Homo sapiens: one gene and its partner. The protein of the gene in region 1 purifies or fractionates together with the protein of each later gene. This does not show direct contact. Each region holds a gene or a part of one and is shown in the gene's direction. Other genes may lie near its edges.

Region 1 (3,988 bases):
AAAGAGAAGTCGGTATTTCTTCTGGCATGGGTGGTTGACGTTTGTTTTGATCATTGATAGTTTAAGAAACTGTCTTTATTCTCACAACACATTAATCGGAATGTGAAAAATTTTTAATATATTGTTAAATTTTGGGAAACTATTATGAAATTTCTTTCATAAAAGAGCAGTAACAAGGCAGGTTATTTCCACACATTGCGTGGGCCCCTCCTGGGCATCTGAAAAGTGGATCCTGCAAGGGAGGGCATTGAAGATTGAGCTTCATCAGCCTCACAGTGGCAAATTTGCTTCTGTAGCTCCTTAATAGGATGAGGCTTTAGCAGGGCTTGTGTTTCACTGCCGTCCCACAAGACCCTCAGGTCCATCAAGACCCAAAGTGGACTGTGCTGTGTCCCAAGAATCTTCTTAACATAAGAGTGCTTCAGCTCTCTCATGCTCTGACCCTCCACGAAATTTGGGTCAAAAAAATTTTTTTTCAGCCCTTTTGAACTTTTTTTTTTTTTTTTTTAAGGCAGGGTTTCACTCTGTTGCCCAGGCTGGAATGCCGTAGTGCGATCACGGCTCACAGCAACCTCAAACTCCTGGGCTCAAGGAATTCTCCTATTTCAGTGCCCCGGAGGAGCTGAGACTATAGGTGTGCCACCACACCAGCTAATAGTTTTTATTTTTTGTAGAGATGGTGACTTGCTATGTTGCCCAGGCTGGTCTCAGACTCCTGGGCTCAAACAACCCTCCCACCTCAGCCTCCCGAAGTGCTGGGATTACAGGCATGAGCTACCATGCCTGGTCACTTTGAACATTTAAAATCAAATTTAAAATTATGTATTTCCAGAATGTTTCATGGTTTTTAGGTGGAGGGTGGTTCTGACATCTCACCTCATCACCAGGACAAGCCCTTGTTTCTCTTTTCTTTCTGCATTCAGCCCCCTGAGGATCTCACTCATGACTGAAACATCATTTGAGGGGTGATCACCTCCAGATCCTCAGCTGGACAAGCCTCACATCGTCTGGGGGCCTCAGTATCTTCACCTGCGGCGTCCAGTCGGGGTGGGAGCAGAATGGCTTCCCAGCCCCCGCCTCACCCCAACAGCACGTGATGCCCAAGTTCCCCTTCTGTGCGCGTCCACAGCTCTCACTCACCCTCCGGCTTCCTGTCGGGGCTTTCTCAGCCCCACCCCACGTTTGGACATTTGGAGCATTTCCTTCCCTGACAGCCGGACCTGGGACTGGGCTGGGGCCCTGGCGGATGGAGACATGCTGCCCCTGCTGCTGCTGCCCCTGCTGTGGGGGGGTGAGTGAGCTGAGGGAGGAGGGACAGGCACAGGGGTGAGAAGGGGGGCTGGAGCTGCAGCTGAGCTTCTGTGTCCCCCCAGGGTCCCTGCAGGAGAAGCCAGTGTACGAGCTGCAAGTGCAGAAGTCGGTGACGGTGCAGGAGGGCCTGTGCGTCCTTGTGCCCTGCTCCTTCTCTTACCCCTGGAGATCCTGGTATTCCTCTCCCCCACTCTACGTCTACTGGTTCCGGGACGGGGAGATCCCATACTACGCTGAGGTTGTGGCCACAAACAACCCAGACAGAAGAGTGAAGCCAGAGACCCAGGGCCGATTCCGCCTCCTTGGGGATGTCCAGAAGAAGAACTGCTCCCTGAGCATCGGAGATGCCAGAATGGAGGACACGGGAAGCTATTTCTTCCGCGTGGAGAGAGGAAGGGATGTAAAATATAGCTACCAACAGAATAAGCTGAACTTGGAGGTGACAGGTATGGCAGGGACCCCAGGAGAGGACCCTGGGACGTGGAGACCCCCGTATGAGAACAGGGACAGGAGTTGGGCAGGGGCGGCTGGAGGAGGTGTAGGACTTGGGGCAGGTCGGGGCCTGAGGCCTGGCCACTCTCGGGGTCACACCTTACGTCCTCAAGCCCCTGGGGCCCAGGTATCTCCCTGTCTCCTCCTCAGCCCTGATAGAGAAACCCGACATCCACTTTCTGGAGCCTCTGGAGTCCGGCCGCCCCACAAGGCTGAGCTGCAGCCTTCCAGGATCCTGTGAAGCGGGACCACCTCTCACATTCTCCTGGACGGGGAATGCCCTCAGCCCCCTGGACCCCGAGACCACCCGCTCCTCGGAGCTCACCCTCACCCCCAGGCCCGAGGACCATGGCACCAACCTCACCTGTCAGATGAAACGCCAAGGAGCTCAGGTGACCACGGAGAGAACTGTCCAGCTCAATGTCTCCTGTGAGTGGTGCTGGGGACACAGCTGAGTCCTCAAGGGCAGTGGGAGTGAGGGGTGTGTGTGTGTGTGTGTGTGTGTGTGTGTGTGTAAGGAAGACAGAGAGAAACAAAACAATAACTTGAGAAACCTTGTGTGTGGATCTAAGCCTTGGGATCTGCGGGGAGTGAGACAGGACAGCCTTCCCCGCTTGGTGGGTTTCTGTGGCTCCTCTTTGGGTACCTCCTGGGCCCATGCCCATCTCACTCCTCACTGCTGAAGCCAAGTTTATATCTTTTTATCCCAGATGCTCCACAGACCATCACCATCTTCAGGAACGGCATAGGTAGGAAAGACCTCCTCTCTGAAGCTGGGACCTGCCTCTGGGTCTGTCTCTGAGCAGAGGTAGAGAATCAGAGCTTGAATGCAATCAGATTTGGGAAGAGCAAGAATGAGAATTACTGCCTTCTGGCTTCCACCTTCTGTGAGCCCCATGTGCAGGCACATATGCACACACGCACATACACACGCACACATGCACACACGCACACACACACGCACACACACACATGCATATACACCACACACATACACATGCAATACACCACACACACACGCACATACACACACACATGCACACAGGCACACATGCACACACACCACACACATATGCACACACACACATACACCACACAGGCACATGCACATACACACGCACACATGCACATACACCACACACACATATGCAGATACACCCACACACGCACACATGTACGTACACCCGCACACGCACACACACACGCACACAGGTGCACACTCATGCACTCTGCTCAAAGCAGTGAACAGACTTTAGACCCCACCCATCTCCCATCCCTCCTGTGGTCTGGTTCTTTCCACAGTCACTAAGGACCACTCCATGCCCCTCTCATCTCAGTCAGCCCAGCTCTGTGGTTCTTCTCTCACCCTTCCACTCCTGCATCCTCAGTCTTATTTCCTGTCACATTAGCGGACTGTATTTCCCAACGCCACCGGGGGCTCTCTGTCCTCTCTCCACCACAGTCCAGGCATGTACCAGTGAGATATTGAGCCTCCTCTGGAGACATGAGACTCAGACACTTTTGGTCAGTTTCCTGAGTGTGCAAAGGCCCAGCCTTTGAACCAGGATGCAATCAAGCCAGCATAGGCCAGGGGAGGAGAGGGAGATGTCATCTGGATCCTGGGAAGGAGGGAAGGATAGGGACTGTCAGCCTCCCTGGCCCCATCTCTCTTTCCCCACCCTTCTCTCCCCAAAGCCCTAGAGATCCTGCAAAACACCTCATACCTTCCGGTCCTGGAGGGCCAGGCTCTGCGGCTGCTCTGTGATGCTCCCAGCAACCCCCCTGCACACCTGAGCTGGTTCCAGGGCTCCCCTGCCCTGAACGCCACCCCCATCTCCAATACCGGGATCTTGGAGCTTCGTCGAGTAAGGTCTGCAGAAGAAGGAGGCTTCACCTGCCGCGCTCAGCACCCGCTGGGCTTCCTGCAAATTTTTCTGAATCTCTCAGTTTACTGTGAGTGTGGGGGCAGCTGGAGCAGGAACTGCATGGTATTAAAGAAGGAAGAGGCCCCCTGCTGAGTTCTGTCCTCCCTCCCCACAGCCCTCCCACAGTTGCTGGGCCCCTCCTGCTCCTGGGAGGCTGAGGGTCTGCACTGCAGATGCTCCTTTCGAGCCCGGCCGGCCCCCTCCCTGTGCTGGCGGCTTGAGGAGAAGCCGCTGGAGGGGAACAGCAGCCAGGGCTCATT
Region 2 (3,500 bases), on another chromosome or scaffold:
CTAGTTGCAAAAAGGCTCTTGTACCTTCAGCATCATGATTGAGTTCCAGATAGGATGGAAAAGGAAGGTTAAAGAACAAAGGGGATAAAGCTACTGCCTCTGGTCCTTTATCAATAAAATGAAAGATATTTCAGGAATTTCAGCTAAAAAACTTCCACATACTTTGTTACATGGCCACCCTAGATGGGAAGGTGGCTGGGTAGAAGGGGATGGTAGATAGAGGCTGAGTCTGCTAACCAACAGTAACTACTGTTATTATTACTTTTTTTTTAAAAGGATTCATCCAGAGATATTCGAGAGGCTCTTCATGAACTCTTATGCTGTACTAATGTTTCAACCAAAGAAGGGATTCATCTTGCATTGGTGGAGCTGCTGAAAAATTTAACCAAGTACCCTACTGATAGGGACTCCATATGGAAGTAATGACTTTTTTGCCCATTTACTCACTGAGTCCCATAATGTGGTAAATGTATAATGCTGACATTTGTTCCGTCCTTATAGATTGAGGATAGTACGGCCCTGAATTTTGCCTTTACTTTAGAAACCTGATTCAACTTAACCGAACTCTCAGGAATCTGATTCCTAAGCTGAGTATCACATTTTAGATTACTTACTAATTTGTGCATCTATCCACCTAGCAAATATTATGTGCCTGCTGTGTGCTGACTATGCACCAACCCTTGTGGTAGCTGTTACAAGTATAGAAATAAATTAATTAGATTTCCTCTTTCTCCTATATAGTGTTTTGTTTTGTTACTTTTTTTTTTTGAGACGGAGTCTCGCTCTGTCACTCTGACTAGAATGCAGTGGCGTGATCTCAGCTCACTGCAACTTCTGCCTCCTGGGTTCAAGCGATTCTCCTGCCTCAGCCTCTCGAGTAACTGGGATTATAGGTTGCATGCCACCATACCCCAACTAATTTTTGTTTTTTTTTTTAGTAGAGATGGGGTTTTACCATGTTGGTTAGGCTGGTCTTGAACTCCTGACCTCAGGTGATCCCCCTGCCCCGGCCTCCCAAAGTGCTGGGATTACAGGCATGAGCCACTGTGCCTGGCCTTATTATTTTTTATTCATTAAGTTCTGGTTTAGAAGGTGCACTAAATTGGCTGGGTGCAGTGGCTCACGCCTATAATCCCAGCACTTTGGGAGGCTGGGGCGGGTGGATCACCTGAGGTCAGGAGTTCAAGACCACCCTGGCCAACATGGTGAAACCTCATCTCTACTAAAAATGCAAAAATCTGCCGGGCCTAGTGGCACACGCCTGTAATCCCAGATACTTGGGAGGCGAAGGCAGGAGAATTGCTTGAACCCTGGAAGCAGAGGTTGCAGTGAGCCGAGATTGTGCCACTGCATGCCAGCCTGGGCAGCAGAGCAAGACTCAGTCTCAAAAAAAAAAAAAAAACCATAAACAATAATAAAAATATATAATTACCTTGCTTTTATAGTTCCTTATAGTTTATAAAGGGCCCTCATGTAGTTATAATAGCTAACATTGAGTTCTTACTATGTGACAGACACTTTGCTAAGTACTTTATGTTAGTTATTTAATGCGTATAGCAACTCTATGAAGTAATGACTTTTAATCTCATTTTGTAGATGAAAAAATTTACTTGCATAAGGCTACTTAGTTTCAGACAGATCTGTGATTTCAGGACTTCACCCAGGATATCAATCAGAATGTTTTTGCCCACAAATAAAAAAGACAATCTGATTAAAAATATCTTAGCCAATAAGTCTGTTTTTTCATAACAAGTGGTCAGAAGGTTGGTTTCAGGATTCGTCATTCAACAGGTTACCAGGGCTCTCTTTGGTTTCTCTGCAGTTCTCTTGGCTTTTTTTTTTTTTTTTTTTTTGAGACAGAGTCTCTCTTTATCGCCAGGGTGGAGTGCATTGGCATAATATTGGCTCACTGAACCTCCGCCTTCCAGGTTCAAGTGATTCTCCTGCCTCAGCCTCCCGAGTAGCTGGGACTACAGGCCCGTGCCACCATGCCCAGCTAATTTTTGTATTTTTAGCAGAGATGGGGTTTCACCATGTTGGCCAGGATGGTCTTGATCTCTTGACCTCCTGATCCAGCCACTTCGGCCTCGCAAAGTGTTGGGATTATAGGCGTGAGCCACCACACCCGGCCGGCTTTCTTCTCATAGTTGTAAGATGGCTGCCTCATAAGATAATATCTCAAGACAGAAAGGAAGGGTCATTCCCTTTCATGCATTGCTCTTTTGATTTGCAAAAACATCCCTGAGAAGCTCCCCAGCCAGCATACTCTCGTGCTCCATTGTCTAGAACTGGCTTACTTGCCCACCAGCAAACCAGTCACTGGAAAATGGGAATGGGATTGCCATGATGGGTTTAGACCAATAGTGGTTCAGCTCTTGGGCTGGACCTGCCTTTTCCGAGCACTTTGCTGCCTGCCTGATACCTGAGTAAAATCAGGGCTCTCTCAGGAAGAAAGATGGGGGAAATGGCTCTTGGTTAAATAACCAGTTCTTTTATCTTTATAATAACCAGTTTTTTTAGATGAATTAACCGAGTTCCAGAATAACTGGGTGACTTATCTGAAGTCATAGAGTTAGCAAAAGTATATGGTTGAGAATTTCCAATTCCAGTTCAGGTTTTCTGATTCCAGTTCCTAGTACTTTTCAAAGGACTAACTTTACTAATTTGTTGATGTGCATTCTTATTTGTTTGTTTCAGGTGCTTGAAGTTTCTGGGAAGTCGGCATCCAACCCTGGTGCTTCCCTTGGTGCCAGAGCTTCTGAGCACCCACCCATTTTTTGACACAGCTGAACCAGACATGGATGATCCAGCTTGTATCCTCTGTGCTTAGGATGGGCCCTGATGTGTTGGCAGGCAGCTTTGGCATCTCCTTCTGCAGTATAGCTAGGGTAGTCTGAATTTTCTTTTCTTTGCTTTTCTTTCTTTTTTTTTTTTTTTTTTGAAGACAGAGTCTCATTCTGTCACCCAGGCTGGAGTGCAGTGGCCTGATCTCGGCTCACTGAAACCTCTGCCTCCCGGGTTCAAACAATTCTCCTGCCTCAGTCTCCTGAGTAGCTGGGATTATAGGCGCCCGCTACCACACCCAGCTAATTTTTGTATTTTTAGTAGAGATGAGGTATCACCATGTTGGCTAGGCTGGTCTCAAATTCCTAACCTGTTGCTTGGGCTGGAGTGCAGTGGCACCACCCCAGCTCACTGCAACCTCCGCCTCCCGGATTCAAATGATTCTCCTGGCTCAGCCTCCCAAGTAGCTGGGATTACAGGTGCCTGCCACCACTCCCGGCTAATTTTTGTATTTTTAGTAGAGACGGGGTTTTACCTTGTTGCCCAGGCTGGTCTCAAACTCCTGACCTCAAGTGATCCACCCACCTCAGCCTCCCAAAGTGTTGGGATTACAGGCGTGAGCCACCATGCCTGTCCAGTATGTACTTTGATAGGCAATATAGTTGCTTACTTTATAGGCAAAATCATTTCCATTTTTTGTATTCTTGGCAGTCTCT

The links. The genes of interacting proteins can lie anywhere in the genome.
Region 2: the proteins of SIGLEC5 (region 1) and INTS4 purify together in Homo sapiens (affinity purification with mass spectrometry; one large-scale study listed by BioGRID and IntAct). This does not show direct contact.

The regions. Positions count from the first base shown.
Region 1 is NC_000019.10:51,627,602-51,631,589, reverse strand, and holds the start of SIGLEC5 (sialic acid-binding Ig-like lectin 5 isoform 1 precursor), read left to right. Parts: upstream 1-1,188; 5' UTR 1,189-1,254; coding exon 1,255-1,291; intron 1,292-1,373; coding exon 1,374-1,757; intron 1,758-1,953; coding exon 1,954-2,232; intron 2,233-2,513; coding exon 2,514-2,552; intron 2,553-3,498; coding exon 3,499-3,756; intron 3,757-3,843; coding exon 3,844-3,988. UniProt on the Homo sapiens protein: Putative adhesion molecule that mediates sialic-acid dependent binding to cells. Binds equally to alpha-2,3-linked and alpha-2,6-linked sialic acid. The sialic acid recognition site may be masked by cis interactions with sialic acids on the same cell surface.
Region 2 is NC_000011.10:77,921,669-77,925,168, reverse strand, and holds part of INTS4 (integrator complex subunit 4), read left to right. Parts: intron 1-276; coding exon 277-419; intron 420-501; coding exon of another isoform or gene 502-523; exon of another isoform or gene 524-1,718; intron 1,719-2,697; coding exon 2,698-2,813; intron 2,814-3,500. UniProt on the Homo sapiens protein: Component of the integrator complex, a multiprotein complex that terminates RNA polymerase II (Pol II) transcription in the promoter-proximal region of genes.